2 separate regions of the Homo sapiens genome follow, and region 1 is linked to region 2. The links come from fine-mapping of genetic effects on gene expression. A gene starts in region 2. The other region holds a variant in brackets. All regions are shown on one strand. Distances are between the middles of the regions. Region 1 has its middle 17 kb from the start of ALDH9A1. Region 2 holds the start of TMCO1 (transmembrane and coiled-coil domains 1).

Evidence for each region. PIP is the estimated chance that this variant, and not a neighbour inherited with it, causes the effect. A credible set is the group of variants that fine-mapping cannot tell apart.
Region 1: its variant is the best candidate, but not a certain one, in a credible set for the expression of TMCO1 in T cells (TOPMed, PIP 0.59).

What each region holds. Positions count from the first base shown.
Region 1 is chr1:165,712,717-165,718,095 of GRCh38, reverse strand. No RefSeq gene overlaps it. Among named protein-coding and RNA genes, the nearest start is that of ALDH9A1, 17 kb to the right of the region's middle. RefSeq lists a silencer at 2,878-3,078. The variant A/G (reference allele first, on the strand shown) is at 2,626.
Region 2 is chr1:165,766,297-165,771,662 of GRCh38, reverse strand. It overlaps TMCO1 (transmembrane and coiled-coil domains 1), which reads left to right and starts at 2,795. Exons shown (of 7, transcript NM_019026.6): 1 at 2,795-2,981; 2 at 3,394-3,471. The coding sequence starts at 2,912. TMCO1-AS1 (TMCO1 antisense RNA 1) reads right to left here and starts at 2,734. Exons shown (of 3, transcript NR_125374.1): 1 at 2,288-2,734. RefSeq lists enhancers at 1,832-2,507, 2,508-3,184.

The DNA.
Region 1 (5,379 bases), 54 kb after region 2:
GCATGCCACCTAGTGACAAAAATTGGCCCTGCCTGCTTTTTAGGGAGATGAAGTGTTTTGTATCCACTGTTTAGGGGAAGGGAGACAGGTAGAGTAGATTACACACTGAGGAAACTTTAGAATGGGTCCCCTGGGCTAAGTGCGGTAGCTCACACCTATAATCCTAGAACTTTGGGAGGCTGAGGTGGGCAGATTGCTTGAGCCCAGGAGTTTGAGACCAGCCTGGGCAATATGGTGAAACCCCGTCTCTATAAAAAAATACAACAATTAGCCGGGTATGGTGGTAGGTGCCTATAGTTCCACCTACTCAGGAGGCTGAGGTGGGAGGATCACCTGAGCCCAGGGAGGTCGAGGCTGCAGTGAGCCAAGACCACGCCACTACACTCCAGCCTGGTAGACAGAATGAGAACCTGTCTCAAAAATAAATAAATAAGAATGGGTCCTCTAATGGGGCCAACGAGAGGCTCCCTGTGGTTGAACATGAAGACATAGACCTGGTAAATGCACAGCAAGTATTATTACATTTTTTTATTCCTGGACTCTCCTGCCACTCCTCAAGCTTCTCAATAAACTTCCATGTAAAAACAAAACAACAAAAAACAATAAAAGGCTTTGTTTCCCCCTCGACAAGGTGAGAAATCTTAAAAATAGGAGAGAAAGAGAGCAGGTAGATCTGGGAGGGTCTCTCTGGCATGCCTTTTGACCCCCTTGTCCCTCTTCTCCTGGGACCATTGTCTTTCTTATCGCATGTCTCCAGTCTGCCGAGGCCTTCCTCCATCCTGGCTCACCTTTGCTCTGTATTTAATTTTCAATGTGTCCTCTGCAGCCCCTGTTCTTTGCTGAGACTTTGCTAGATTCTCAATTTTATCATAGAATACTCCTACCACTTGAACTAAAAACCTAACTTTCTTATGAGGGAAATGTCAATGTAATTACACAAATATATCTGATAATCCATGATAATTCACAACCCTTTTGAGCAGACGCTGCTGTTTCTCTTCTCTTGTCTGAGGACCAAGAGGCAGGGTCGATGTGCTCCTAGCTACCCACTGCCTCATCCTCTTTTTCAAAAAGCCTTTTTTTGGCTGGGTGCGGTGGCTCATGCCTATAATCTCAGCACTTTGAGAAGCCAAGGCGGGTAGATCACCTGAGGTCAGGAGTTTGAGACTAGCCTGGCCAACATGGCGAAACCCTATCTCTACTAAAAATATAAAAATCAGCTGGGTGTGGTGGCGTGCGCCTGTAATCCCAGCTACTTGGGAGGCTGAGACAGGAGAATCGCTTGAACCCAGGAGGCGGAGGTTGCAGTGAGCTGAGATTGCACCACTGCACTCCAGCCTGAGCAACAGAGTGAGACTCTGTCACAAAAAAAAGAAAAAAGAAAAAAAAGGGCCTTTTTTCTTTTCAGGCTCACATGTTCAATCCACAAAGTTCTGTCTTTCTTATTAAAAATAACAATTGTAAAAAAGCAATATACACATTTGGTACAAATACAAATATCTGTGAAGGTATAAAATGAAAAGCAAAAATCTGTGCCTCTCTTCCCTATGCCGTCCTCATGCACCTTCCCTTACTTCAGATTCCAAAAGGTAACCATTGTCAATATTTGGTTATCTGTGATGGTCAACTTTGTGTCAACTTGGCTAGGCTATGGGACCTAGTTATTTGGTCAAACACCAGCCCAGATGTTGCTGTGCTGTTATTTTTTAGATGTGATAAACACTTAACAATCAGTAGACTTTGAGTAACACATATTACATTCCATAACATGTATAGGCCTCATCCAATCAACTGAAGGCCTCACAAGCAAAGACTGAGGTCTCCTAAAGAAGAAGAAATTCTCAAGGTTGCAATGTAGAAACCGTAACTTAGTTTCCAAATTGCTGCCCTGTGGAATTCAACTCAAGACTGCAACTTAACTCTTATCCTGAATCTCCAGCCTGCTAGCCTGCCCTACTAATTTCAGACTTGCCAGCCCCCACAGTCACATGAGCCAGATCCTTAAAATCTCTCTCCCTGTCTTTTTATCCTATTATTTCTTTTTCTCTGGAGAACTCTGACTGATACAGTGCTTGTATTAATGATGGAGATGGACCTCTGTCTCGCCAAATCCATTCTTCACTCTCATAGTTAGTTTCCCTTGCAGTTCATTGTGGTCATTCAACTAAGTTCTCTCCACTTGCATGGGAAAAGAAGTGATGTGAACCACTTCATGCCTTACCAGTGAAGACTTCTTGCTGTTTTCTTCTCTGGATGACTGGGAGGTTCATGCTGAGAGTGTCCTTGGAAACCATGTGTTGAAGATGGCATCCTGAGTCCTTCAGTTACCATGTGGAGCTGAGTCACCTCTTCTCCAACCCTGCTCCTACAGATTTTGAACATTTTACTTAGATGCCTCTGGACTGTTAGGTAAATTGCAAAAAAATTTATATTGGGTGTAAACTATTACATTTTGGATCTGTTTAATAAACTAGCTTAACATACCCTAATTTAGAAATCCAACACCTAAAACAGAGGGATTGGCTTAGTAGATGCACAGCAGGAGGTTAGGAACTGATATCACTGACTGAAAGACGGAGCCTCTTCCTATGCCATGGCAAAATATTTGGTAAAACTGTTGCTGTG[A/G]TAACTTGACAGGCAGACACAACTCTTATGGTACTGGTACTTCTAGGGAAGGTAGATGGAATGAGCCAGAATGTAACTGTGAGTTGGCTGCTGCTGGCTGTTTTTGGCTAGGTATGTTCAAAAAAGAGATGAGCTCAGACTAGAATCTACTGGTTTGCAAGTGAAAGAAGGGAATAGAGTCCAGAAGCTTGAGGACTTAAAGATTTCTAAAAGCCAACTGCTTCAATACCGTAATAGCCGAGACAAGACTTGTAGCTCAGAGGACTGTCATTGAGACATTTCAGTCAGACAAAGATCTTCTTTCAATCTTGCCCAATTGTTTCAGATAGTTTCAAGACAACTGACACTAAATTGAGAAAAGAGGGTTTGGGGTAGGGAAGAAAAGAGATAAAATAGGCTTAAGGACTCTGTCTAGAAAAGAATCCTGGCTGTGGCTATTGGCACATGGTACTGAATAGAAGAAGCAAACAGATTAAATGTCTTGTAAGCTTTTGTTTTTTTAAGATGTATTCTTGCTCTGTCACCCAAGCTGGAGTGCAGTGGGGCTATCTCAGCTCACTGCAACGTCCGCCTCCCAGGTTCAAGCCATTCTCCAGCCTCAGCCTCCCAAGTGACTGGGACTACGGGTGCCCGCCACCACACCCGGCTATTTTTTCGTATTTTTAGTAGAGACAGGGTTTTGCCATTTTGGCCAGGCTGGTCTCAAACTCCTGACCTCAGGTGATCCACCCACCTCAGCCTCCCAAAGTGCTGGGATTATAGGCGTGAGCCACCGCACCCAGCCTGTCTTGTAAGCTTTTTTTTTTTGAGACAGAATTTCACTCTGTTGCCCAGGCTGGAGTGCAGTGGCACAGTCTCAGCTCACTGCAATCTCCGCCTCCTGGGTTCAAGCAATTCTCCTGTCTCAGCCTCCCAAGTAGCTGGAATTACAGGCGCCTGCCATCAGGCTCGGCTACTTTTTGTATTTTTAGTGGAGACGGGGTTTCACTATATTGGCCAGGCTGGTCTCAAACTCCTGACCTTGTGATCCACCCACCTCGGCCTTCCAAAGTGCTGGGATTACAGGCGTGAGCCATGGCGCCCAGCCATCTTGTAAGCCTTTGAAGCATAACTATTGCTGGAGAAACCTCAGGAAGCCTGGCCTAAAAAGTTTTTGTTAAAATAAAGCAAGTCTTGTGCTCCCAAACTTGCAGAAATCAGGCTGCAAAAGTTGAATAATCCTTGAAGAAGGCATATTCCTCACCACCTCCTTTAGAATTTTTTATTTGCACAGCTTTTGGGTCTTTTGATTAGGATGTGTTCTTTTTTTTTTTTTTTTTTTTTTAGATGTAGTCTCACTCTGTCACCCAAGCTGGAGTGCAGTGGCACAGTTTTGGCTCACTGCAACCTCCGCCTCCCAGGTTCAAGCGATTCTCCTGTCTCAGGCTCCCGAGTAGTATCTGGGATTACAAGCACGTGCCACCACACTTGACTAATTTTTGTCTTTTTGGTAGAGATGGGGTTTCAACATGTTGGCCAGGCTGGTCTCGAACCCCTGACCTCTGGTGATCAGCCTGCCTTGGCTTCTCAAAGTGCTGGGATTACAGGCGTGAGCCACTGTGCCCGGCCCAGTGTCATTTCCTTAACATTTCTTTTGCTTGAAGTTCATTGAACTTCTTGGGCCAGTAAGCTTGTAGTTTCAATCAAATTTGGAAAATTTATTTTAAATTTTTTAATTTGTTTTTATTTTTAGAGACAGGAGTTCTCACTATGTTACCCAGGCTGGTAACAAACTCCTGGGTTCAAGCGATCTTCTTGCCTCGGCCTCACAAAGTGCTGGAATTATAGTCATCAGCCACAATGCCTGGCCGAATGTGGAAAAATTTTTGATCATTATTTCTTCCAGCATTTTTTCTTTCTACCTCCCAATTGCTGTATCTTTTGAGACTCTAATTACATACATGTTCAGTCACTAGATATTACCCCACAGCTCACTAATTCACTTTTTCTCAGTCTCTTTTTCTCTGTGTTTCATTCGTAGTTTCTAAAAAATGATTGCTGTGCCTTCAAATCCACTGATATTTTCTTCTGTAGTATCTACCTGTTCATGTCATTCAGTTTATTTTTAATTTCCAGTACTGAATTTTTCATCTCTAGACCCATCTCGATATGGGTCTTTTATATATCTTCCATTTTCCTATTCATCATGTTTATACTTTACTTTTTAAGCATAGGAAGTATATGTGTAATAACTGTTTTAACATCTTTGTCTAATAATTCCATCATCTGTGTGTTTTCTGGGTCTGTTTCTTTTGACTGGTTTTCCTCCTGATCATGAGTTATCTCTTCCTGCTTCTTTGCATGCCTGATAATTTTTTATTGGCTCCTGGACATTGTGGATTTTACTTTATTAGGTGATAGACTTTCTTGTATTACTTTGAATATTTCAAGAGTTTTATTCTGGGACAAGATAAGTTATTTGGAATTGGTTTGATTCTTCCGAGGCTTTTATTTATTTATTTATTTATTTATTTATTTATTTATTTATTTATTTATTTATTTTGAGACGGAGTTCCCCTCTGTCGCCCAGGCTGGAGCGCAGAGGCGTGAGAGGCTTCCTTTTAAGCTTTGTTATGGCAGGCCCAGAACAGCCACTAGCCTAGGGCTAATTTGAGCCCATTATTGAGGCAATAGCCTTCTGAGGACCCTACACAATGCCCTATAAGATCTTTCCACGCTGGCTGCTGGGAACCCAAACTATTCCCAGTCCTATAT
Region 2 (5,366 bases):
TCTTCCTATTGTACTAGAGATTGGAGGAGGTCAGTGAGCTTTGGGAGAGCAGTCCTCATGGGGAAAGCTTTGAAATCTAAAAATTAGATAGTACAACTAAGAGCTTAGAGAATTTGGGAATATAACAAAGAAAACTAGTAGAATCTAGAAAAGATGTTATCTGAACTTGTCTCTAGCACTGTTCCTTTTTTTTTTTTTTTTTTTTTTTTGAGACCGAGTCTTGCTCTGTCGCCCAGGCTGGAGTGCAGTGGCGCCATCTCGGCTCACTGCAAACTCCGCCTCCCAGGTTCGCGCCATTCTCCTGCCTCAGCCTCCCGAGTAGCTGGGACTACAGGCGCCCACCACCACGACCAGCTAATTTTTTTGTATTTTTAGTAGAGACGGGGTTTCACCGTGTTAACCAGGATGGTCTCAATCTCCTGACCTCGTGATCCGCCCGCCTCAGCCTCCCAAAGTGCTGGGATTGCAGGCGTGAGCCACCGCGCCTGACTTCTAGCACTGTTCTTAAACAAGGGGCATAGTGTCATGACATCATTACCCTAGAAAAGGAAGTGTATCCTAGCAGTCCATGGTTGTAAACATTTACACAGGAATAACTTAACTGCTTATTAATATATTTCATATTTTCTCATTTTTTCATATTTTAACATCTCTGAATGGGATTCTTCTTACAATCAATGGTGTGTCATGGTTTAATTAGTTATTTTTTCCTCTTTAGTAGTAGATAAAATAATGATGCGTCTTACAATGAATAGCATGTTGAATTTGATGAATTGTGTGTGCCAAGCACTGCTTGAAATGCTTTATAATATACTTTTCCTCATCCAGTCTTCATAGCTGATGTTACCACCATTTTGAAGGCTCAAAGATGCTAAACAATAGGTTCTAGGACTGCTGTCAAGTAAGTGGCAGAGCAAGAATTTAAAATCAGGTCTGATTTCCAAGATCATGCTCTTATTGTTATCTCAGCACTTACCTTGGGTGATACAAAGGTGAATAAAAACCTATCCTTGTCTGAACTGCTCAAATAAAGGTCTAGCTCAAATATGATCTTTCTGAAACCTTTCCAACTCCCCAGGAAGAATACATCTTGTTTTCATCTGTACCCCCTCAACATTTTAAGAATACCTCTATAATACCTATAATCTTATTATATTATATAATCTCCCTGGGCCCTTAGAAGTCAGGAATATTCTCTTAACCATCCTTTTGACCCTACAGTGCCTACCACAGTTCTTGACATATAGTAGAAGCTCAATAATGTTTCTTAAAAAGGAGACAGGGTCTCTGTTGCTAAGTCTGGGAGACAAGAAATGCACATAAAGCTAAAAAAAAGTCAAAAGTAGTGTTTAGGAGAATTATATATTTAAGTGCAGTACAGTTTAAAAGAACCAATGAGGGCCGGCCACGGTGGCTCACGCCTGTATTCCCAGCACTTTGGGAGGCCGAAGTGGGTGGATCTGAGGTCAGGAGTTCAAGACCAGCCTGGCCAACATGGCAAAACCCCGTCTCTACTAAAAATACAAAAAATTAGCTGGGCGTGGGGACGGGCACCTGTAGTCCCAGCTACTTGGGAGGCTGAGGCAGGAGAATGGCTTGAACCCGGAGGCAGAGGTTGCAGTGAGCCGAGATTGTGCCATTGCACTCCACCTGGGCAACAAGAGTGAAACTCCATCTCAAACAAACAAAAAAACACCAATGATAGGAGGAAGTACAAGAGGATACAGCTCAGCCAGCTTCCAGGTTTTCACCCATACACACACACACCCCAGTGTGAAAAAGCTGAAACCGTCTACAATGGCTGAAACCACGCTGCTGAGACATTTTTGAATTTTAATTAGTTAGCAACACTTATAAATTAAGTTTCACATAAAACCCAGGATTTCTGGATTTTCCTGAGAAACGAAGACATCTCAGAAACTGGGTGCTCATTCTCCTAGAGAAATGGGTTGGATTTGGGTATCAAATTCTCCTTTCAGATGAACTTAATGCTCACTTATCCATCGTAGTAACTTCCACCATTTGTTTAGGCTCAGCTTGCATAAGATAATTTATTTTCTCTCGCCAGTCTAGGCATCTGGGTTTAAGACCCCTTCTCTAGATACATTACTCACTGCACTATCACACTATGAATTTTCAGGCATCCGTGCTTTGACTTCCACTTTGCCTAGAAAGTCCTTTGCTATCTCCAAAAGTACTCCTACTCCCCTAAGGCACTGCTTCAATTCCTTTCATTAGCTTCTTCTGACCACTCTCTCAACCGTGTCACGCAGCACTGTGGTAATACCTCTATTAAAACCCTTATCAGAGCGTATGCACAAGCTTCTCCTCTTCGCGCTGACGTTCGCTCCTTGAGGCCAGCGGCCCACAACTAACTCATTTCGCGGTTCCAGCTTCACGTCCATGCCCTGGCACCTACACCCAGTCGTTCAGTACCTTTGCGGAAGTCAGTCTTCTTACTTCACGGCAAACCCAAGCTAAACTAATATTACGACCACAGAAGTTGGGCTGAGGTAGAAGTCAAGACTATCCCAATAACTGGATTCTGGCCGAGAAAAAGGCGCGCGCCAGCACCCCAGTCAGTAAAATCTACCGGGCAAAGTTCGCCGCCGCCACTATCCTCCTCTGGCTCTGAAATAGTTCCAATTCTCGCGAGATTCGGCCTGACTACCAGCCCTTCAGCTCCAGTGAGTTGCGGGTTGGTTTCCTCTAGACTCTCGTGGCCACACCGTTCTCCGATACGAGCCTTTCCGGTGCTATGCCCCGGAAGCGGAAGTGCGATCTTCGGGCTGTCAGAGTTGGTCTGTTACTCGGTGGTGGCGGAGTCTACGGAAGCCGTTTTCGCTTCACTTTTCCTGGCTGTAGAGCGCTTTCCCCCTGGCGGGTGAGAGTGCAGAGACGAAGGTGCGAGATGAGCACTATGTTCGCGGACACTCTCCTCATCGTTTTTATCTCTGTGTGCACGGCTCTGCTCGCAGAGGGTGAGAGCGGGTATTTCTCAGACGTTTGATCAGTCCCCGGGAGGAAGGGCCCCGGGGTCCCCTGTGCCACCAGGGGAAAGATCGCGAGCCTTACTTGCTTGAGAGGCTCATCTACTCCACTTCAGGGAATCTCTGGGCAACTCGTGAACAGGAGCAGGAGGGGAGTATGGAGTCGATTGCCGAGTTTTCTTTGGTCTCAGGTAGATTTCACTTGGGTATTTGTGGAGACACCTTCACATCATGTTACTGTTGTTTTGGCTGAAGAGTCAGTTGTATTAGCCTTTGAAAAAAGTTAACTATGGGTAAATACAAAGCGAAAAGTTGGAATTCCTCCTTCTCCAACAGTAACCACTTTGTTTGTTGTGATCATTCCAGTCATTTCTCTATTAACATGTTGCTTTTAATGTTTTAGGCATAACCTGGGTCCTGGTTTACAGGACAGACAAGTACAAGAGACTGAAGGCAGAAGTGGAAAAACAGAGTAAAAAATGTGAGTATGGCAACACATTAGAAATAATTTCAACACGTCAAGCTCATTAAGTCCATGTTCACAATAAATATTTTAAGAGCACCAGCTGATACAAAGATGAACCTGACTTGAAGCCTATTTAGAAATAGAAGACTTTTATGCAAAATGTGTAATACCAACTAGAGGGAAGTGAGGGGCGTAGCAGATACATGTTATGTGCTGTGGTGGTTCTAAAGAAGAGGTTCAATCTGGCGCAGTGGCTTACTCCTGTTAATCCCAGCACTTTGGAAGGCTGAGGCAGGACTGAACTTAGGGGTTTGACACCAGCCTGGGCAACATAGGGAGACCTCGTCCCTACAGAAAAAATTAGCTGGGTATGGTGGTACACACCTATAGTCCCAGCTATTTGGGAGACTGAGGCATGAGGATCCCTTGAGCCCAGGAGATTGAGGCTACAGTGGGCCACGATGGTGTCACTACACTGCCTCCTGGGCAATAGTGAGACTTGTCTTTAAAAAAAAAAGAAGAAGAGGCTTCATTCAGTTGTGAGGAACCATGGTAGCCTTCATGATGCTGATGGCCTTGCAGTTCCTTGTGGATAGTTAGAATTTGGATAGAGAATGAAATGGGGAAAGGAAATTCCAGGTAAAGAAATAACATATGAGCAAAAATATGGAAATCTTAACATTTAAGGCATGTTTGGAGGATGATATGTCATTATGACTGGTGTCAAGGTAAGTGGTGTCTTCAGAGATAAGCCGAGTTTCAGTTGGGTTAGAAAGTTGAAGAGGTGTTTAAGGAAAAGATTAAAAACAAGAAGGGTTTGTTACCTTTGAAATAAAGCAGGAATTCCACAGGACTCAGCTAAAGGTACAGGGTGAATGGTTCCTTATAGGCCTGATTTAGTTTTCTCTCTTCTTTTTTTCCTTATAAGGATTAAATATAACTTTTGTTTCTTAGAATTCCTACAACTTTCTGTATTCTGTGACTTTTTCTTATATCTTCATAGGGGTTTGAAGTTTTTTTTCTTAAATTACCATATTTGATCTACACAGCAACCATTTGTGGTTACTCGTATAAATATTACCTCCATGTCATAGGAAAGAAAATTGAGCCTCAGGATGATAATGACAACTTACGTCACAGAGCAAACAAAGAATTAGAGACCAGACTCAGGCTTTTAAAATTACAGCTTACTGTTCCTTAATTTACTCAGTGTTGATTATGTACCTCAGCATATCTGGGCCAAACTCGTTATCTTTACCTTCACAAACGTGATATTCTTCCAGGATTTCCCTATCTTGGTGATGGGTACCTCCATGCTTCCAGTAGTGTAAGCCAGAAACCTTGATATGCTTTATTAATTTGGCTCCAGGACACCATACTTTCGGTTTTGCTGCTCTCCATCTTACTAGTCATCCTTTTTTTATTTTTTATTTATTTATTTATTTTTTGAGACAGGGTCTCACTCTGTCACCCCTCAGAGCTCATTGCAGCCTGGACCTCCCAGGCTTAAGCGATCCTCCTGCCTCAGACTTCTGAGTAGCTGGGACTACAGATGCACACCACCATGACTGGCTGATATTTTGGAGAGATGAGGTCTTGTTCTGTTGCCAGGGCTGATCTCAAACTCCTGGGCTCAAGCGATCCTCCCGGCTAGGCCTCCCAAAGTGCTGGGATTACAGGCATGAACCACAGTGCCCAGCCCTTACTGATCATTCTTCTGCAATTTACTTGATGGTTTCATTTCTTGACCTCCCGTTGTTGGGAGTGACACAAAATTTAGTTTTTTTCTCTACATTCACTTCCTTGGTGAACTTATCTTTTGGCTGTATTGGCCAGTGACTCCCAAATTTATGTCTGTGGCCCTCTCTTCTTAATACAAGATTCATATATCCACGCATCAATTTGTTATG